Homo sapiens: one gene and its partners. The main gene of each other region encodes a partner of the protein of the gene in region 3 in a complex. Each region holds a gene or a part of one and is shown on either strand. Other genes may lie near its edges. The genes, in order: ARF1, AP3M1 and AP3B1.

Evidence for each region.
Region 1: the proteins of AP3B1 (region 3) and ARF1 are in contact, whole or in part, in a cryo-EM structure (PDB 9C5B), measured with the Homo sapiens proteins. Residues at the interface, in NP_003655.3 of Homo sapiens: Glu52, Asn54, Pro81, Val84, Lys85, Val87, Ala88, Asp111, Leu112, Leu114, Leu115, Ile117, Ser118, Thr119, Gln121, Arg122; in NP_001019397.1 of Homo sapiens: Glu17, Arg19, Tyr35, Ile46, Pro47, Thr48, Ile49, Gly50, Phe51, Asn52, Val53, Glu54, Lys73, Ile74, Leu77, His80, Tyr81, Asn84.
Region 2: the proteins of AP3B1 (region 3) and AP3M1 are in contact, whole or in part, in a cryo-EM structure (PDB 9C5A), measured with the Homo sapiens proteins. Residues at the interface, in NP_003655.3 of Homo sapiens: Leu60, Lys64, Val67, Gly68, Ile70, Ala71, Lys72, Gly73, Ile92, Glu93, Lys96, Leu97, Val100, Arg104, Glu107, Asn128, Gln129, Leu130, Arg137, Arg143, Ser163, Pro164, Tyr165, Lys168, Asn169, His172, Gln175, Lys176, Leu202, Ser206; in NP_001307192.1 of Homo sapiens: Met1, Phe15, Leu16, Glu17, Trp20, Lys21, Ser22, Val23, Gln26, Val42, Glu43, Asn44, Val45, Pro46, Pro47, Val48, Ser50, Tyr55, Ser58, Ile59, Tyr60, Gln71, Thr72, Glu73, Val74, Pro75, Pro76, Leu77, Phe78, Ile80.

The regions. Positions count from the first base shown.
Region 1 is NC_000001.11:228,078,096-228,085,720, reverse strand, and holds the start of ARF1 (ADP-ribosylation factor 1), read right to left. Parts: upstream 3,014-7,625; 5' UTR 2,956-3,013; exon of another isoform or gene 2,871-2,955; intron 2,588-2,870; exon of another isoform or gene 2,347-2,587; intron 1-2,346. UniProt on the Homo sapiens protein: Small GTPase involved in protein trafficking between different compartments. Modulates vesicle budding and uncoating within the Golgi complex. In its GTP-bound form, triggers the recruitment of coatomer proteins to the Golgi membrane.
Region 2 is NC_000010.11:74,140,724-74,147,828, reverse strand, and holds part of AP3M1 (AP-3 complex subunit mu-1), read left to right. Parts: intron 1-7,105. UniProt on the Homo sapiens protein: Part of the AP-3 complex, an adaptor-related complex which is not clathrin-associated. The complex is associated with the Golgi region as well as more peripheral structures.
Region 3 is NC_000005.10:78,284,599-78,291,703, reverse strand, and holds part of AP3B1 (AP-3 complex subunit beta-1), read left to right. Parts: intron 1-7,105. UniProt on the Homo sapiens protein: Subunit of non-clathrin- and clathrin-associated adaptor protein complex 3 (AP-3) that plays a role in protein sorting in the late-Golgi/trans-Golgi network (TGN) and/or endosomes.

The DNA of each region.
Region 1 (7,625 bases), on a different chromosome or scaffold from region 3:
TTCAATTGCTGTGCCTGTGAAAATCTGCCTGCCTTTTATGCTTTCCCTGTCTCTTCTCTTGTCATTTAGGCTTCTCCTGTTATCAGGGCCTGTAAGAAGCACCACCCTTCCCAGTCTGTTGGCTGACAACCGGCTGCAAGCCCTTGTTACCACTGTGTGAGAACCAGGAAACCAGGATTAGTCAAGGACTTTATGGCTTATCAGCCAGCCTCACTGTCTCCCCATCCCTGTAGGTGGCTGAGTGACAGGACCCTGGGGGAGGACCTGAGAGCCTCCTGGGAACAAAGAGCATCCAGGACATGTCTGTCAAGTCGCTAACAAGGTCATCTGACCCACCTGAGAATGTGAAACTACCTATCTGGACGGTGCGGCAGCTGCGCAGCTGTAAGGCAATAAATGCAACTATGCCTTAGAGAGCTTGTAACAATCACAGGAGAATATTAACCTGAGGATGAAGGCAAGTCCTGGAATCCCAACATGAAGGGGCCAAATCTTTTCCAAAAGACCACTTCAGACGCTACGGGCAGAATGCCCCTACCAACCATCCACGCCAATGAGGAGCAGGCACAACACAGAAAACACAAGTTCTCATAATTTAAGATCCCCACTGCGAGGCCTTTTCGTGTTTCTCTCCCAATTATCTTTGACAGTGCACTCTATTTCCTTTCACCCTCTTGAATTTACGGAGGTGAAAGGTCAAGGGGAGAGAATGCCTATGAGAGACAGTATGGGCCCGCCAGCCCAGGCTGGCTGCAGCCTCTTGCTCAGGAGAATGGTCACAGCTCAGGAAGAAGTGTGTAGGAAAGCTTGGTGGAGCCTGGCCTGTGAGTAACAGCAGGTTTAAATACACCAAGGAGACATTTAATTTGAAGAATCTAAAAAGAACTGCTTCAGTTCTCTGAAACCATGGTCATATACTACTCCACGTGTGAACTTGCACAAGTTTTTTTCTCTTAGGTCTACTTCCATGATCACCGCAGCGGCTGACAGTCCATATTAAATTCTACTGAACTGAAAAATGAAAGGTCAAATGCATCTTCCTATAGTTTCAAGCCTGTCTGGTCCGTAGGGGCAGATGAGCAGTTGAAGATGTCTGAATGTCCTCTCCATATTGTGCAAGAGGTACAGCCCATAGCTAGACCACATGATGTACAAAACCAGAACTGTGAGGGGCACAGAACCAGTTTTTGCTTTTCACTCACAGTCATTGTGTGACTCAGCTGTTGTCCAAACCAACTGTTTCAAATCTTTTTCAACTAGCAAATCCGAAAATCTGCCTCACAGGCAACAGCATATTCCTACTGCTGCAGTGATTTGGATTTATTTTCAACAAGATACGCCTGAAGACAAGTGACAGCTATTCTCCAGTCTACCAACATGTGAAAACATGGACAACACACTCTAACAATGTGTCCAATGAGATGTGTGACTAACATTTACACTACTCAATTCTTCTCAATTTTGGACCCAGCTAATAGTACGGCATTTCAGGACCTTATGGTTCTGGCTACCTAGGCAGTGCTGGTGAAAATTCAAATTAAATGAGGACACCATCCATGCGGTCACACGTGTTAGACAATGGCTAACGCAACAGCAGAGGGCCACAGGGGCCGCACACAACTGCACCGCGGCATCTCACACTCCTCCCAACACACTGCGGAAAACGCCAGAACCACCAGCCTTGCAACAGCCGGCAAAGAAAACTGCTGACCACTAGTTCTGAAACAAGAACTACAACTGCCCACTCCAACAGGGGCAGTGGCACCAACTCTACAGCTCTCAACTAGGCGGCGACTTCGGGGACCATCCAAAGCCTCCGACCTCCCTTCTTTTCCTGCCCGCGATTCCGAGTGCATTTCTGCTCAATTCCTGCAAAGCAGCAACTGGCTGCCTGGACTGAAAGGGAGTGCCAGGAGGTGCCGTCGGAATGGTTATTTAACACTCTAGGTGCGCACGGCTGTCCAGCCCCAATCTCACACGCCGTAACCACCCAGGCTGTGCTCCGAGAGAGCGCTGGGGCCGGCCTCTGCGGCCTAGAGTCTGCGAGCAGGTCGTTCCGCAGGCAGGTTAAAGATTCAGGTAGGTTAAAGATTCACCAGCTCAGAAGAGGCCTTCTTATCTACTGCCGACAACGTCAAGGAAACCACCCTGGAGTTAAAGCGAAGATCGACCGGCCCTCTGGAGGCCACCGGTGCCCTGAGTGCTGACCCCAAATTGCGTCTCACTGGTGTGAAGGGAGGCACTCTGGGCTCCCCCGGAGGTCCACGCATTCCGTTCAGCAGACAGGGAAGGGCACGGGGTTCCTGTCCACCTGCCCGCCCGCTCTCACCACCCCTGACCCGGTACCGTCTTCACAGCAAACACGAACTGGATGGAGTCGGGAGGCGAAGATGCAAGCCCCCACCACCTACATGACCTTGACGGCGTCTCAGGCCGCCCGAGCCTCAGTTTCCCGGTCCCCGAGGCGGGGGTCCGCCCGGATGCCGCTCGCTCGCCTGTACTCGGGTGGGGGAGGCCCCACGACCCCCACCGGCCCCCGCGGCCGCTAATCCCAACCGTCCACGCGCGGGCGGCCTCGGGAAACGAGAAAGGCAGAGGCGAGGGAAGCAGGAAGCCCAGGTTTCCTGGAGAAGAGCCCGGCGTCCAAGCGGACTTCCGGGCGACGGGCGGGGGCAGGGACAGGCAGAGGAGGACAAGCGGCCGCGAGCGACTTCGGGAACCTGTGAGGGGTGCGAGGAGCTCACCGACCCGCCCGTCCGCCCAGCCCCGACTCCGGCCGGGCCCCAGCCTCAGCCCGGCCCGTCTGCGTCCGCCCCCGGCCCGGCCCTGTCGCCGCCGCCGCCGCGGGGGTCGACGTGCCCTTCGCGAACCTCAAGTCGCCCCGAGGCCAGTCCCCAGCCCCCGCCGGCTCCAACGTCTCTGCGGCCCACACCGGCCCGCGCCCCTCGCCCTCACCTCAGAGGCTGCTGCTCCGAGCCAGGCGTTGGTTTTGCTCCCACAAGATGGCGGCTCTGACGGCGGCCACGTCAGCGCCTCCGGGCGCGGGGCACGCCGGGTAAGGGGCGGAGACGCCGGGAACTCCGCCCACCGTGCGCCCGCGACGCAGGCGCGCTGGCTCCGGTAGGGCTGCAGGGGGCGGGGCCGGGGACACCCTGCCCCGGGCCGCGGTCTTAGCTCGCGCGCACCCTAGGGGCGCGCACCCGTCTGCGCCTGCGCCTGTGAGTCTTCCGCGAAGACAGCCTGTGGCTCACTCCCGCCCGTTTGGCGTATTTGGAGACTGAGGCCCGGGGGGCTCCTGCAGCAACTGGAGCTGCGGGGCTGGTTGCCACCTTCCTCCTCCCACACCCGGCAGTCACCGGGAGGCCTCGGGGACTGCGTGAGGACGGGGGTGCGAGGCGCCCCTCGCCGGGGTTGGGGTTCCTGGCTCCCAGGCTGCGCGGGTCCACGTGCCCCGGCCCTGTGGAAACCTGTGGCACTCGCGGGGCCACGGCGGAAGGTCCGAAGGCGGGAGGCTTGCTGTGTCCCCGCACTGGCCTCGGCGCCCCGGCGGCCGCAGTGACGCGCGGGCTCATACCTGGGCCCGGAGCAGACGCCGGGGAGCTGGCCGCAGATGAAGCAAAGGAGGAGGTGGCCTGGGGACCCCGGGGTGAGGCGGGGGCCGTGGGGGTGGGGCCCAGGGTTGGGGACGGCCGCCCAGAAGGGAGGTCACAGTGGTCTCTAATGAGCTGGCCTTTAAGCTGAGATCCAGTTGAGGCGGAGGAGATCCCGCTCTCAGGCACCTGAACAGAGGACCGTTGCAGTCCCTCTGTGTTCCGTGTGCTGGAGGCCTGGCTCTGCCCACCACCCTCAGGTCTTCTTGCCTCTTCCCTTGTGCTGCTGTGAGGGGTTGGGCTTGTGGGAAAGTGTCCCTGCAGCACAGTGCCCTGGGTATTGTGGAGGTCGGGAATCAACCTGATTTGTGCAGGCCGAGGCCCGGGGGCAGGGCCTGAGGGGTGGGATCACTGGGCCTGGCCCAGGCCTCCTGCGCCCCTTTGCTGCCCCCATCACCTACGTTGCTTGCCCCTTGGGCAGGGCGTCCTCACTGCCTCTGGAGGCTGCGATGGGCAGATCTCTCCCCCAGGGCTGCACCTGCGGGGGCTACGAAGGTCCCCAAAAGCGGTGACCCTCCTGCCCCCAAATTTAGTCCCTTTTTCTGCCTGGGGCTCCCTTCCGAAATCTCACCTCTGTGAAGCTGTGGCAGGGTTGTCTGTTTAGGGGAAGGACGTCTCCCACCCTACAGGCATCTCAGATACTCTTGGAAAGCCCCAGGGAGGGTTGTGGATGCCTGTGGAACCTTCTGGTTGTGCTGCCTCTCCCTGCTCAGCCAGAGCGGGGCCATGTGCGGACATTTCACGGGGGTTACATGTGGTTATGGCCTCTTTAGGGCTGAAGGGACCTGGCTTTGGTTCTCTGCTGGCAGAGCGTGGCCAGGGGTGGCTCCAGGGTCACTGAGCGGGGATTGTGTGGGAACCAGAGCCTGCCTCCCCTTCCTTTAAAATACTTTTTATTTATTTATTTATTTTTGAGATGGAGTCTTGCTCTGTCGCCCATACTGGAGTGCAGTGACACAATCTTGGCTCACTGCAATCTCCGCCTCCCGGGTTCAAGCAATTCTCCTGCCTCAGCCTCCCAAGTAGCTGGGATTACAGGCGCCTGCCCCTATGCCCAGCTAATTTTTGTATTTTTAGTGGAGACAGGGTTTCACCATGTTGGCCATGGCTGGTCTCGAACTCCTGACCTCAGGTGATCCACCCGCCTCGGCCTCCCAAGGTGCTGGGATTACAAGTGTGAGCCACCGTGCCTGGCCCCTTTAAAATATATATTTTTTAATGTGAAAAAATGCAGACAGGAAAGAGTGTATGTCAGATACATGCACAGTTTAAAAAGTAATAAAATGGATTCCTGTATAGCCAGCCCTAGGGTTAAGAAATGTACCTTCCCCAGCCTGGGCAACATAATCTCTACAAAAATTTTACAAAGATAGCCAGGTGTGGTGGCACACACCTGTAGTCCCAGCTACTTGGGAGGCTGAGGTGGGAGGATCGCTTGGGCCCAGAAGTTCAAGGTTACAGTGACCTAGTAGGACTGTGCCACTGCACTCCAGCCTGGGTGACAGAGTGAGACCCTGTCTGAAAATAATAATAATAAAAAGTCCCTTCCTGCTGATTCTGTGCTCCTGGTTTGGGCTCCCCACCACCACCGGGGCAAAGATGATGTCTTCAGGCCAAACAGGCGCAGGGGAGCCCAGGTAGTCACACCCAGATTTCTGCCCCTGGAAGGAGACCCACTAGGGAGTTAAGAAGTGTCAGGCAGTGAGTTCCTGGGGTAATTGAGGCCCAGGTGCTCCCCCAACGCTGCCTAGGGAGTAGGGATCCCTTTCTCTCTCCTCTGAGGTCCCTGGGATCAGATGAGGTTTAGCCAAGAGGGGTGGGATGAGCTGACTGGAGGGAGGGGTTTGGGGGCCAGGCTGGGCAGGGACCCTCCAGCCTTCGTGGCCGCCTCCATTGTCAGTCTCAAAGACGCCAGCTCAGGTTGGGCTGGGCTTCTCTCCTCTGGGGGTGGCTGCACCCGAGAACCAGGTCAGAGACAGGGATGCCAAACAACAGAACGGGCTGGCCTCCTAGGGAAGGTGGCTGGAAGGACAGATGGGCTGTCTGGGGCAAAGGAGCAGGAATACCCATGTGGGAGACCTAGTAGGCAGCCATTGTGGCTAGGTGAAGGGGACCCCAGCCCACCTCAGGCCTGGCAGGCACTTTGGTCAACCTCTGAGTGCAGGGCTATGAAGTGTGCGGCATTTGAGCCAGGCCACAGATGTTCAGAGAGGTCTCACACGTACCTGATGTCACACAGCTAGGATGGAACCCCTCTGGAGCTTGACTACTCCATGCCCAAGTCTGCTTATTGCCAACACCTTTACTCTTTCCCCAGCCCTGCCCTCCCTCTTGGGGAACAAGCACTTTGGTGCCTCTGCAGACTGCAATGTTATCTTGGATTCCTCCAGTGATGGGGAGCTCACTACTACACCAGGCATCCCAGGACAGAGTTCACCTCTCTGGATATCCTGCCCCACTCTGTCTCCAACATGGTTGCTCTGCCCGCTCTCTCTGTTGGGAGACTCTAGGTGGGCTAAAGCTGGAGAATCACACTGCAAGATGCCAGGGTGTTCTGCAGGGTGGCGCTGCCTCCACCAGAGTCAGTACTTCCTCCTCACGCTCAGGGCTTAGTCCAAACACTCAACCTCTAAGACCTGTGGCAGGAAGAACTCATACCCTTAAAGACTTCTCTGGGGGGTGAGGTGGGGATAGGACCCTGCTGTCCCCTCTGCCTGGCCCTGTTTCCTTCTTCCCCAGACCCCTACCCAAAGCCTACCCTCTGGCTGGTCACACCACAGGACCTGGAGCACGCCACAGGAATTATTACGGCTATGCTGACTGCATGGGCCCTGGGAGAAGCCCCCACCTCCCAGCTCAGGGTGGCCCTGCCCTGCCTTCTGGGCCTGGGCTGGGGTCTGGGGTCATTCGGGAAGCCGGTGGCCAGTGGTGAGGGTCCCAGCGGCTTGCCTGCACTACACAGTGGCTTAGGAAATTACAGTTGAGTTCCGTGAACTCCAGGGAGTTTGCTCACAGTCGTCTGATTTCTGGTCCTTTTAAAGCATCACCTGTTTCCCCTTATATTCACTCCGGCCTCAGTTTCCCCATCTCCTGCCAGCCCTCCAAACCTCAGATGAAAGCCTAGAGCTGCACATGTCCCTCCCCTGGACTAGCTCTCAGGGGACCTTGTTTTCCCAGGCAGGCTGGCTTCTCAGGGAAAGGACTGTTTTCTCTCTGGTTCCAGCCTATTGTCATGCCTGGGTGGACAAATGGGGAGCCGGTGAGGTGAGCACCCTGGGGAGGGATTGCAGAAAAGCACATCTTGGCTCTTCTTAACCTCTGAGTGACATTTAGCATTTCCTCCCATCTTAAATGCAAGCAGCATTCCCCAAAAGCAGTATTAGCAATACCTGTGGTTTTTGTTGCTGAAATATCAGAACTTTTCATCTCAGAGCTGTTGCATGAAATCTGTAAATATTTTCTCTCTTTTTTATTTTTATTTTTAAAGACAAGGTATTGCTTTGTTGCTTGGGCTGGTATTGAACTGGGAAAATGACCCTCCTAACCCAGCCTCCCAAAATGCTGGCAGTACAGGGGGGTACCACCACGCCTGGCTGGAAATATTGTTTATACTCCTCGATCAACTGGAGTGACAGAGGCGGCCTGGTTTTATCATTTCAGGTGCTAATAACAAAAGAAGTTCTGACTCTGGGTACATGTACCGATCCACTCCTCCTATCAGGATAACAAAATACCTGGCATCCCCAAAGTGACATGCCACAAGTCTTAAAGTGTCTGATGGCACCATTTCCCCAGTCCCGTGCATCACTTATCGTAGGCATTGGTGAAACCCCACTTGTCAGCTAGAGTGGTCCCTGCCTGCACACATGAGCCTTCTGCCTGTCCTGGACTCAGACAGTGGCCCTGACTGTGGGCCTCTGCCTACTTTCGGACACTCCCTTCTGCCCGTGGGACTTGGGCAAGTTGTCTACCTGC
Region 2 (7,105 bases), on a different chromosome or scaffold from region 3:
CAGGGTTTCGCCATGTTGGCCAGGCTGGTCTCGAACTCCTGACCTCGTGATCTGCCCGCCTCAGCCTCCCAAAGTGCTGGGATTACAGGTGTGAGCCACCGCACCCAGCCCACCAAAACTACCTTTACCAAGATCACCAGTGTCCTCTGTGTGTTAAATCATGCATTCTCAAAGCAGATAAAAACTGCTTCTTGTGAGGTGAAAAAAATATAATACTCTTTTTATGTGTAAAGCACAAATACAATACATAAACAGAGAATATTCTGTGGTATTAAAATTTTATGGTGATATTAATTAGCTTCATTTAATTATTCCACATTTCATAAATCATAACATCTGGTACCCCTAAATATATACAACTATAATTTGTCAATTTACAGTTGAAAAAGAAAGAATAATAAAAAGTTTTATGGGTGAGGAATTTGATTGGCAGGGTGGTGAGAAGATGGAGTCTAAAAGGGCTCCTTAGCAGGCATTAAGGAAAAGAAAGTTTAAAAAACACTCTTAAATCAACAGACATTTTCAATTCTTTTTTGTTGTTGTTGAGATGGAGTCTCGCTCTGTCATCCAGGCTAGAGTGCAGTGGCGCCATCTCGGCTCACTGCAGCCTCCACCTCCCGGGTTCAAGCGATTCTCCTGCCTCAGCCTCCAGAGCAGCCGGGATTACAGGCACCCACCACCACACCCAGCTAATTTGTTGGTATTTTTAGTGGAGATGGGATTTCACCATGTTGGCCAGGCTGGTCTCGAACTCCCGAGCTCAGGTGATACTCCCACTTTGGCCTCCCAAAGTGCTGGGATTATAGGTGTGAGCACCACGCCCAGCTGACATTTTCAATTCTCGTAGCTTAACCTCTTTGTGCCATGTAACAGTATTTACCACTCCATTCTTCTGGAAATACACTAATAAGCTATAGTTACTAAAAACCACCCTGTTTTTTTTTTTTTCTTAGGACTCTTCAGTCACATCTTGGTCATTCTTTAGGTCCACTTCCTTGACCCACCTCCTACTCAAATGTTGGAGTTCCTGCCATAAGCTCTCTTCATACTATGCACATTCTTTCTTTTGTTTCAATTCTCCTTTTGATTAATTCCCATTAACAAAAAATCCTGATTACTTACAATTCTGATTCCAATCTGGCTTCTCTAAAGCACCAGAAGGGTATATATAATAGTTTTTTGAATATATTTATTTGGGTCAGATGTATCCAGAATTGGTCAAATTACACAGGACCAGGCCAAGTGACACATCTCTCTCATCTCCACACACCCCCTCCTCCAAGCCTAAATGTTTTTTAGCACAAAACCTAAATGTTTCTCTTATCTTTTCACTGTACCCCATCCTCATAGTCAAGACTCTAGACCAGGCCATCACCACTCATCTCCCAACTGGTGTCACAGTGTTCAGTTACCGATTATCCAGTTTCCGCAGTGTAATTAGTATGATCTTTCTAAAAATGTAAATCGGATTGCATGATTAATTAAAAAAATTATAAAATGACTTTACATTGCACTAAGAATAAAGTCCAAACTCCTTAACAAGTTTAGCATGCTCCATGAACCAATCAGTCTCTGCTTACCTCCTTGTCCAGTTTCATCTCCCCTCTTCCCTCCACCTTCCATATTTGCTAAATTTATACTGGATTTATTTGTCTTGTGTTCTCTCTCACCTCTAAGCCTTGTAGATTCCCACAGCACACTATATTTCCTGTATCATCGTAGGAATTACATCTTAACTGTATTAAGTTGTCTTCTCTGCTCATCTCTAAATGCTGTGAGTATAGGAACTCTAATTTTGTTTGTTCTTATATACCCAGTGCCTCAAAACTCTGTGTTGAATGAATATGTGGTCAAGATATTGGCTGAGAATCAGAAGAGTAGATGCTTTTCTGGTCTCATTCTCTCAAGTTCAGTATAGGCCCTTCTGTGCCTCCATCATATTATATATAGAAGGAATACATTTTTGTTTTTAGACACTGTCTTCCAAGAATATTTTGACTATTGTAAATGCATTGCTTGTGAATTACCCAGGATGATTATAAAATGTTTAGTAAAAAGGATTTATGATGTATTTAAGCTGCAGTCAAAGCTCTGGTGGGTCTGCCTCTGAACACAGTTTCTTCTAGTGGCTTTTAAATAAGCTGGGAGAATTCTGTTTTATGACTCAAAAGCCACTAGGAACAAAAAGATGGTTGTGGTAATAATGAGTGTGTAGTTTTCTCAGAAAGTTTATGAAAATAATAATTAAAAAAATAACTGCAGCTACCAAAAGGACGATAAATAAAGAAACAGGCTAATTTACACTGCAACATGGTATTATTTAATTGTTATATGCATTAGACCTTGGTCATAATATGGATAGAAGAAGTAAGCTCTCTTTTCCTATTATAGAAGGTTAAGATGGGTTTTAAAGCTAAGCACAGTCGAGAACTTACAAGTGTTATGCTTTCATCTCAGCACTAAGGATAACAACAATAAATCTAGGAGGCTGGTTTAACTTTCTGTATTCTGAGACCTGAACTACTGCCAATAAAAACAACTTCGGTGGAAACTTTCCTGGAAAGAATTTTTCACCAGCTTAAGAGGATGAGTAGAGATCTGGCCCTAAAATAAAGTAACTACAAAATCACTTACTTTCAAAACAAGCAACTCTTTCAGAGTGTATTGTGGCAAAGGAGCACTATAAATCCTTGTGAACTATATTTTCGATAGGATGAATGATTTTAGATAACCTGTGTCGGTGCTTTTAAATATAACTTCCACTCTAAATAATTTATTAAACTTCCTCAGCATAACAACTAGAATGTCTTTTGCCTCCTAACTAAACAAGAAATGTCTTTTACCTCCTCCTCTTAAATCATAAGCTAGGCTGGGTGCAGTGGCTCATGCCTGTAATCTCAGCACTTTGGGAGGCTGAGGCGGGCGGATCACGAGGTCAGGAGTTCGAGACCAGCCTGGCCAACATGGTGAAACCCCATCTCTACTAAAAATACAAAAAATTAGCTGGGCATGGTGGCGCATGCCTGTAATCCTAGCTACTCGGGAGGCTGAGGCAGGAGAATCGCTTGAACCCAGCAGGCGGAGGTTGTGGTAAGAGGAAATCGTGCCATTGCACTCCAGCCTGGGCAATAGAGCAAGACTCCGTCTCAAAAAAAAAAAAAAATCATAAGCTAAAGCAGCACATTCATGCACTGTTCAATATATTAACTACTAACCATATATGGTTATTTAAATTTAAATTAATTAAAATTAAAACTTCAGGCTAGGCTTGGTGGCTCACACCTGTAATCCCAGAACTTTGGGAGATCAAGGTGGGAAGATCACTTGAGCCCAGGAGTCCAGGATCAGCCTGGGCAATATAGGCAGACTTTGTCTCTACAAAACAAAAATTTGAAACTCAGCTGTGTGTGGTGATGCACGCCTGTAAGCCCAGCTACTCAGGAGACTGAAGTGGGAGGATCGCTTGGGCTCTGGAGGTGGGCGTTGGAGTGAGCCAAGATGACGCAGCTGCACTCCAGCCTGGGCAACAGAGCGAGACCCTATCTCAAAAAAAAAATAAAAATAAAAAAGCCGGGCATGGTGGCTCACGCCTGTAATCCCAGCACTTTGGGAGGCCGAGGCGGGTGGATCATGAGGTCCGGAGATCGAGACCATCCTGGCTAACATGGTGAAACCCCATCTCTACTAAAAATACAAAAAATTAGCCAGGCGTGGTGGCGGGCTCCTGTAGTCCCAGCTACTCGGGAGGCTGAGGCAGGAGAATGGTGTGAACCTGGGAGGCGGAGCTTGCAGTGAGCAGAGATCACGCCATTGCGCTCCTGTCTGGGAGACAGAGCAAGACTCCGTCTCAAAAAAAAATTAATTAAAATTTCAAAAAAATTAAAACTTCAGTATTGGGTACATTAGCCACATTTCAAGTGCTCAATAGCCATGGGTGTAGTGGCTACCATATTAGCACAGATAAAGGACATTTCCATCATTGCAGAAAGCCCTGTTGGACAGTGCTGTATTAGAACGTGTTCCTAATAATTAGTCTCTACAAGGCAGATAAGAGCAGGAGCTCAGAATTCAGCTGGATTTAGGTTTGAATCCTAGCTTACTGCGTGATCTTAGGTAATTGACCTAACTTTTCTGAGATGACATTGTCTTATCTGTAAAATGGGGATAATAGTAGTATTTATGGTGTAGCATTGTGAAAATAAGATGAGATAAAGTGTCTAGCATAGTGTCTGGCCCATAATAAGTACTCAATACATTTTAGATAGTATTAATTCATTTATTATTCATTATCTTTAATGAATAAAACACTTTGAATGGGGACTGAGTACAGTAGCTTCACTTTGGGAGGCGAAGGCAGGCGGATCACTTGAGGCCAACATGGTGAAACCCCATTTCTACTAAAAACAGAAAAACTAGCTGGGCATGGTGGTGCACACCTGTAATCCCAGCTACTGAGGAGGCTGAGGCACGAGAATTGCTTGCCCATGGGAGACGGAGGTTGCAGTCAGCAGAGATCACACCACTGCACTCCAGCCTGGGTGACAGTGGGAGACTCTGCTCAAACAAACAAACAAGCTTTGTTCCCAAGTAGCTGGGATTACAGGCGCACGCCACCATGCCCGGCTAATTTTTGTATTTTTAGTAGAGACAGGGTTTTGCCATGCTGGCCAGGATGGCCTTGAACTCCTGACCTCAGGTAATCCACCAGTCTTGGCCTCCCAAAGTGCTGGGATTACAGGCGTGAGCCACTGTGCCTGGCCAAAAATAACCACATTGAATGGGGCCAAAAGATTAATTTTTGCAAAGAATGCTGTGTTCCATATGTGACTCACCTGAAGTGCCCAAATCTGAGTCTGCTTGTGGATTACAGTGCTCCACTTGAAGTCATACATTATATATTTCAGATGCTGATTTTCTTCCAAGAAAAAGGTGTAATAATAAAAATTTAGTTGCAGATCTTATGGTTGGATATTCCTGTTTCATTTAAAAAATGAAAATGAAAAGTTTATCAGCTAAAGATTATAGTTAAAATCAGCAGGTTCTATATAGCAAGTCTAAGTATTCTAATGGCACTTATATTAATACCCAGACAGAAATATAAGACACAAAGCAAGCCTACTAAGCAAAGCATCTGACTAGATAAAGTAGAAAAATTTGGCAGGTTCCAACCCTGAGGTGTCAGAGTTTATTGCTAATAACTCAAGTTGATTTCTTGGCTAAACAGAGGGCTTTAAACAAAGAAATTTTTTGGTTCTAATTAAACAGGAACCCTAAACTGTTAACAGTATTCATACTTTATTAATACAATAATTACTAAAACATATCTTAGTAACTAGTATTATTGATAACTACTGAACATGTGTCGAATGGGAAGAGGAGATCATCACCACATATTCTTTAAATGTCAGCCGCTTTCATAAAAGAAAGGGTTGATGTTGTTTTCTGTCAACAGAATCAAATGAATCAATTCTGGAAAGTCTTCCTTTCCTCTTTGGAATTTATCTTCATTCATAGAAACTGTATTCATAGGTCTTAAATTCTTTCTTCTTAGACTATAGTACTATTACTTGGAATGATTGAGCCACTAGACTAAACACCTGATACTGGTGCTTATACACGTAAAAGATAGGAACAAGGTAAGATAATTAGACATTTTTCCATTGTCCCCCATATTGCAGGGACAATAAACTTCTTATAGGAAGCATAACTAACACTCAGAAAGTATGCAAATCACAATGTAAAGCCTAATGAGTTATCATAGAAGGAACACAGCTTGTAAACATCATGCAGGTCAAGAAATAAAACATTGGCCAGGTGCGGTGTCTCACTCCTGTAATCCTAGCACTTTGGGAGGCTGAGGCAGGCGGATCACGAGGTCAGGAGTTCAAGACCAGCCTGGCCAACATAGTGAAACCTCGTCTCTATTAAAAATACAAAAAAAAAAAAAAACTAGCCAGGTGTGGCGGTGTGTGCCTGTAATCCCAGCTACTAGGGAGGCTGAGGCAGGAGAATCTCGTGAACTTGGGAGGCAGAGGTTTCAGTGAGCCGAGATAACACCATTGCACTCCAGCCTGGGCGACAGTGTAAGACTCCATCTCAAAAAAAAAAAAAAAAGGAAAATAAAAAAGAAATAAAACATTACCAGCACTCTAGGAGATCATCCCCATGGCCCTCCACTCTCCATAAAGGAAACCATTTGATTTAACGTAGATTAGTTTTGCCTGTTCTACAACTTCATATAAATGGAATCATACTGTGTATATTCTTTTGCATCTGGCTTCATTTATTCAACATCGTATTTGTAAGATTCGTTTGTATGTATATATTCTTTGAGTAAATGTCTTTTCAAATCCTTTGCCCATTTTTTAATTGGCTTGTTTATTTATTTATTTTTTATGTTTTAGAGGCAAGGTCTCCCTCTGTCACCCAGGCTAGGGTGCAGTGGTGGGATCATAGTTGACTGCAGCCTCAAACTCCTGGACTCAGGCAATCCTCCCACCTCAGCCTCCCAAGTAGCAGGGACTACAGGTATGAGCCACTATGCCTGGCTAGTTTTTAAATTTTTTTATAGAGACGGGGTCTCAAACTCCTGGGCTCAAGCAATCCTCCCTCCTCAGCCTCCCAGAGTGCTAGGATTACAGTTGTGAGTCACCACACCTGGCCCTTCTTATTATTGAGTAAAAGTTCTTTATATTTTCCGGATAGGGGTCCCTTTAAGATATATGGTTTCAAATATTTACTATCATTTTGTGAATTTTTGCTTTCTTGATAATGTCCTTTGAAGCACTAAGTTTTAAATTTGATGGACTCTGGGTTATCTATTTTTTATTTTTCTTGTCTGTACTTTTGGTATCGTATCTTAAAAAACATTGTCTAATCCAGAGTCAAAATCTATGCATATTTTTTCTAAGAGTTTTATCATTTTGGCTTTTCCAATTAGGTCTTTGATACATTTTGTGTTGCTTTTTGTATCCAATTTCATTCTTTTGTATGTGGAAATCCAGTTGTTCCAGTACCATTTGTTGAAAAGGTTGTTCTCTCTCCAACTGGTCACCCAGGTCTTGGCACCCTTGTTGAAAATCAGTTGACCATAAATGTAAGGGTT
Region 3 (7,105 bases):
TAGTTCCTTAGCCTTTTTTGTCTTTCATGAATTTGACATATCTAAGGATTGCAAAGCCTATTATTTTATTTTATGTTAATCAGTTTTTGGGTTTGCTGGTGTTTCCTCATGTTTAGATTCAGGTTATGTATCCTTGGCTGGGATACTACCATAGGTGATGCATGCTTCTTGAACTATTACATTTGGAGGCATAGGTTGTCCATCTTCATGATGTTAATTTTCCTAGTCACAGGGTTGTCCAGTTTCTCTGTGGTGTCATTTCTGTTTTTTTTTTTTTTTTTTTCAAATTATCTGTGGGGAGACACTGAGACCATGCAGATGTCTTGCTCTTTTTTAAATGGACCACTTCTACATTTAACAACCATTGATCAATCTCCTGAACCTGTCTTTTCCACAATGGCTGCAAAATGGTAATGTTTCAGCTGCAACTCCCTCTGCTGTTCTGCTCTTTGGCTTCTTGGCCTAGAGCTCTGTGTTCACTGATCCTTCACTAACCATCTCAATGATGCCTAGGTACTTCCTAGTCATAGTATTATCGGCAATTTTTGTTTTCTGAATTTAATCTTATTTATCAATATTATTTATCTTCTCCTCTCTTCAAACAGAAGCAGAATTAGATGGCTTTATGAAAGTAGATCCTATACCTAATTTATTGGCTAAAAAGGCCTGTGTATTAGATTATTGGCTTCAAGATTTTCAATTTCTTTATTTAAAATGTAAAGAACTTATTTTTGTACTCTTATTTTTTATTTTTTGAGACATGTCTTACTCTGTTGCCTAGGCTGGAGTGCAGTGGTGTGATCATGGCTCACTGCAGCCTCAACCATCTGGGCTCAAGTGATCCTTCCCACCTCAGGCTTCCGAGTAGCTGGGACTACAGGTGCATGCTACCATGCCCAGCTAATTTTTGTATTTATTGTAGAGATGGGGTCTTGCCATGTTGCCCAGGCTAGTCTTGAACTCCTAGGCTCAAGCAATCCGCCTGCCTCATCCTCCCAAGGTGCTGGAATTGGAGGCGTGTACCACTGTGCTTGGCCCCTTCCTTCTTTTTAAAATATTCTCAACTTTTATTTTCTGTTTTTTTCTAAGTTGTTTTTCTTCATTTAAAAAAAAACTTCTTTTAACCAATTTGGGTATGTGTGCCTATAATTAAAAATAATTTTAATAATTCTGTTACTGGATTAAACATTTAATTAGGAATTAATTTCTAGAAACAGACAAGACTAATTAATTTTTCTTAATTACAATAGTAAAGCTACTAAATTTGTAAATCTCTTTTCCTTTGAGAGCATCTTGGTGTATTAGAAGGAAGACTGAGGCTGGGAATGGTGGCCCCTGCCTGTAATCTTAGCATTTTGGGAGGCCCAGGCAGGAGGATTGCTTGAACCCAGGAGTTCCAGACCAGCCTGGGCAACATAGTGAGACCTTGTCTCTATAAATGAAAATGGGAAGAAAAAACAAAAAACACTGGGCCCAGAGTTAGAAGACCTGGATTTAAGTTGATGTTTTCCATTTGTAGTAGTGCTTCCTTGTTCAAGTTGCTGATCTCTTCAAACCTCAGTTTCCTCATTTCTAGACGGGATGTGATAATACTTGCCTCTTTTGTGAGGATCTCATGAGATGGTGTACTTCAAAGTGATTTCTAAACTAGGATATTAACTAACGCTATTTGGGAAAGTTGGTGAAGACTTCACTGAGGTAGTGACACTTTAGATCTTAAAGCCTGAGGTTTTTGCCAGGGGGAGGAAAGATGGATTCTTTAGGCAGAGTATGTAGAAACCAGAAGATTTGCAAAAGAAAAAGCATGTTCAAATGAGATGGATATTTAGACATCACAATTATGAATAGTAGGTAGTAAAGTATGGGAATGGATGAAATCACCCAGGGAAGACTTTTCTTGTTAGACGAGAAGGCAGTTTGGACAAAACCCAGGGGACAACAGGATATAAAGTATGAATGGAAGAACTAGAAAAAGAGACTGAGCTCAGAAGGGTGGGAAAACACAGGAAGGTTTAAAAAAGAAGATGCTAACAGGAAAATTAAAAGAAGGAAATGTTCAGCTATGTCAGGAGTTGTAGAGTAAGGGCAAATAGAATGAAGGCTGAAAAGAGGCCCTTGGGTTTAACAACTGAAAGGTGACTTTAGCAGCCAGTAACTTAGCAATGCAGTACCTCCTGCACACGTTGAAAGGTAGCATTTTTACTCTGTTTAAATCGGGGTGGGCTTTTCATTTGTTTAGATTCAAAGAGCTAATTTAGATCCAAGCAAAGTACTGCATGCTTTCCTGTAGTCAGTAATACAACCCAGTGTATTTGGATTGCATCAATAAAGCCTGACTTATTTTTTAACTTAAATCTTATTCATTGTCAACTTTACAATATCAAACATGAAAATTCTATTACATTCATTCTTAACCTTTAATATCAGTGATTCTCAGGAGAGTCCAGTAGGAAGATTACATGTGTCTGTGGTTTGTACGCAATTATAGCAACTCTGACTTTATCTCCACTACTTTTTGTATCTTTCTGAAAGGCATATAGAAATGCAGCTGAGTGAGATTCATTTACTTAGAGGGATGTTATTGAATATACTTTCTTAAAAATACAATTTTATTAATAGTAACGCATTATATTTGACCTACCTCAAAGAGTCATTGTGTCTCACTATGGGTTCTAAACTTGTTTGTGTTTAAGTCCATTTTTTATTAATACTTAATTTTATCTAGTGTCTGTACCATATTTTTGGGTGTTTTTTTTTTTCATTTAACATTTTTTCATGGTCTAGTTGTTTAGAGCTTGCTCTACTTTCTTTTTGCTTATCCTAGTATTTCTCATTTAAACTTTATCTCATTGTGTATTTTCAGTTTATGTAGTTGCTCAGTGAATATTTCTTAAATATTTATATAGATAAATCGTTCACACATTCTGCTCATATTAAAGACTGTGATTTGTGTGAAGGTGCCTAGCAAAGTGTTTGGCTCATAATTTTGCTTAATAAAATATTTTCAGATCCTTTTACTCAATTCAGTGATTTAGATTCCATTAACATTTGCTCTCTCATTAGCCAATGTTGTTAAAAAATGAAGCATGACTGATTCCGTGGACCCTATACAGAAGGAAACCCTCATCTGGTATCTCCATTGTATTGTAGTACAGCATCACCCTGAAGCTAATTTTGTGTAGTTCACTTGGGTCTTTGCTGTGGTTAGGATTAACTGACTCGGAATTGTCATGTAGGTATGGAATGAACTTTACAATCAGGATTTTTAGTCTTTATCCCAGTCTTCAAAGGCATCTTTACCTCCCAGTCTTGGATTATTCCATATGTATGGTTCATTCCTCTGTGTTTTCACCATAAAAATGCATAACAATTATAGTGTCTTTATCTTGTTTTTAAGAAACTCAGACTTTATTTGGAGAGATTAGGCTAATGTGAACTAACCGTCAGTAATTCAAGTATACAATTAGTGTTAAATTGTGTAATTCAACTTTTCAGTGTGGCATACCTATTGAAAATTATTTGTTATAAGCCTTTGTTTGTGTAAACAGTGATTTACTGAAGAAAATGGAAATGCTGGAATTTTGAAATGTTAAGGACATTTTAGTTTGAGACGTTGAAGTGTTGGTGCCCTGAGTCATAAGCATGACATGAAGAGGCACGGGCTCCTTCCTCATTGTGAATTCCTTTCTCTTGTGCTCAGGAGTTCAGGGTTGCTGCTATGAAAATATGCTTCAGTCATGATTTTGTCAGCATACTGTTATACATCTGATCATCTTTAGTTATGAAGATTTAAATCTCTTGTGTTCTAATAATTCCAGGTTTGATAACTGATCTGTCTTGTTTATTATGTTTAGCTAATTGAAATTTATGGTCATTAGATCTGGTACTAGAGCTGTTAACATATTTGCTTGCTACATATGTAAACTGGATCCTACTTTTTTTTTTTTTTTTTTACAAGGGGTACATTAAGTTATTAGGAAATTTTAGTATTTTATTGATTTTTCACTAAATTTCAGCATTTGTTCCAAGGTGACTAAAAATAAAAGAAGAAACTGTATACTAGCATCTGCAGTGCATTCCTAGCAGCTGAACTAGTTGTTTTTGTCTTCATAAAAATAAGATCGTAAGTTTTACAAAGGGCCAACTATTCAAATTAAGGATTGTCATTTCAGTGGTGCAGTAGGGTTCCATTTATGATTTAATTCTTGAAATATATTTCAAATTAAATAAGATTTTACTACATTGAATAGAAATTTGATGAAATACTGCCTGTAAACAGAGTCTTACTTTCCAACAGATTATAAAACCTTTTATCTTATTTTGCTTTGCTTGCATATCTCCTTGAAGGAGAGTTGGTTCTGACTTCTACATTTTGTCTTAATAAATATTCAAGAAAATATTCTTTCTTGACAGTAGGATATGTTATTTTTAAAATCACTGATCTGGTAAAATTTGAGGAGAAAAATCTGAAAATTAAATTTCAAGCCTTACCATTAAATCATAAGATGTGAGATTTTATGTTATTTAAAAAAAATTTAGTATTTGGAGCAACATTACCAGAGCTGAATGATTAAAGCACATGAAAAAGGCAGACAGATGGTTGGTTGAAATGTTCTTTTTTGCTGCATGAAAAGTTATAAATGCTCATAGAATGACAAATGTATTACAGTGAAATAATTTGACAGTATTTCACTTGTGTATATAAATGAACTACTGACAAAAACAAATTGCCTGCAGTCCAAATTCAAAATTTAAAATGAAGAGCTTAAAGTAGAATAATCAAGAAGGAAATGATTTTCCTCTATTTCATATTATTATGAATAACGTTGGTTCGTGTATTTAGAGAAGGCTTATTTAGCCTATCAGCTGGAAAGACTTAATAGATCTACAAAAGTGAACAGTTTATAGCCAATATCTGTTTATTGATGGACTGATTATTTATATTGCTGATAGGAACCAGCCTAATTAGAAGTCCACTGTCTTTAATTCAGCTGAGTGAGTTGGCATGGTAGCTGGACAAATGAGAGAAGAATGAATAAGGCCCTGTCTCAGTTTGTTTTATGCTGCTATAACAAAAAACCTGAGACTGGGTAATTTCTAAAGAATATAATTTTATTTCTCACATTTTTGGAGGCCAGGAAGTCCAAGATTGAGTCACAGGCAGGTTTAGTTTCCTGGTGAGGGCTGCTCTTTGCTTCTAAGATGGTCTGTTGTTGCCGCATCCTCTGGAGGGGAGTAATGCTGTGTCCTTACTGGGCAGAAGGTGGAAGGGCAAGAGAATGGAAGACTGTGAAGCCTCTTTTGCAAGGGCCTTAATCTCATTCATGAAGGGAGGAGCCCTCATGACTAAATCTTAAAGGCCCCACCTCTTAATGCTATCATATTGGCCATTAAGTTTGAACATCTGAATTTTGGAGAGGACACATTGAAACCATAGTAGGGTGGTTCCAAAATCATAGGTTGGCAGAGCTAGGCATCACCCAACTTTATTCTTGGAATGGGTTTTCTGCAAGTTTTTAAAGCCTAGGTTGAGAATGTGGTCAAGAAGGATGTGGGGGAAATTAATTAGTAAAATATGAGGGCAGAGAGATAAGGGGCAGAGTGGAAGGCGGAGACCTGATTGTGTAGGGCCTTGTAAAATCATTGTTAAGGTCTTTGATTTTACTCTGAGTGAGAAGGGATGCCATTTGGAGAGTTTTGAGCAGAGGGGTGAAATGATTGTTTACCCTTTAAAGGGACATTTTGCCTCTTGAACTAGGAGTGGACTGCAGATTTGAGGCAAGGACCAGCAAGGAGACTATTACAGTAATTCAGGCAAGAGAAGGTGATCCGATTGGTGGTAGTGGAGAGAAGTGGGTGAGTTATGGATATATTTGAAAGGTAGAGCCAATGAGATTTGCTGATAGTTTGGATGTGATATGTGTGTGGGAGAAAAGATATCAAGGGTGGATACAAAGTTTTTTGCCTACACAGCTCGAAGTTTGGAATAGCTGTCAACTAAAATGAAGAATATTGTGCAAAGAGGAATTTTTTTTTAAAGGGGGAAAGGGACCAAGAGCTTGTGCATGTTAAGTTTGAGATGCGATTAGGCATCCATGTGGAGATACTAAATAGGCAGTTGGATATCAGAGTGTGGAGCTTAGAGGAGGAGTCAGGCTAGAAGTATAAATTTGGGAGTCATCAGGTATCATGGGATTGGATGAGACACTGAGGAAGTGAGTGTAGAAAAAGGTCAGAGTCAGTCAGTCCTGGGACATTCCTGGAGTAATTGTGTCAAATAATACAAATAGGTCAAGTAAGATGATTACTGAGAAGGGAGTTTTGGATTTGTCACTGGGTGGACTTTGGTGACCGTGACAAGCAGTTTAGGTGCACTGGTGGGGCTGAAAGCCTCATGAGTGGGCTCAAGAGAGAAGGAAGAAGAAGAATTGTGGTTAGTATTTTTTTTTTTTTTTGAGACAGAGTCTTGCTCTGTCGCCCAGGCTGGAGTGCAGTGGCGTGATCTCGACTCACTGCAAGCTCCGCCTCCCGGGTTCACGCCATTCTCCTGCCTCAGCCTCCCGAGTAGCTGGGACTACAGGCGCCCTCCACCACGCCCAGCTAATTTTTTTTGTATTTTTAGTAGAGACGGGGTTTCACCGTGTTAGCCGGGATGGTCTCCATCTCCTGACCTCATGATCTGCCCACCTCGGCCTCCCAAAATGCTGGGATTTACAGGCGTGGGCCACCGCGCCTGGCCATTAGTATATTTTTAAGTATAGAAGAGCAGAGAAATGGAGCAGCACTTGGAGAGGAATGTTATGTCAAGGAATTTTTCCTTAAGGTAGGAGAAACTGTATTATCTTGTTTGCTGATGGAACCAACTGATGTAGAGGAGAGAAAATAGATGATGCATTAGAGAGAAGGAAAATTGCTGGAGAATTGCTGATATCCCCTTTTTCTTCTAGAAAACTTACAGATACAGGTTAGCTGAAAAATAACAACCCTAATTTCAATATCCAGAAGAAATCGGTTAATGTAGTATATATCTTTTAGCCTTTTTTCTTTTGCATATATATTTATATGTATGTATGTGTATATCATGTGTTTTTAGAGCAAAGCTATA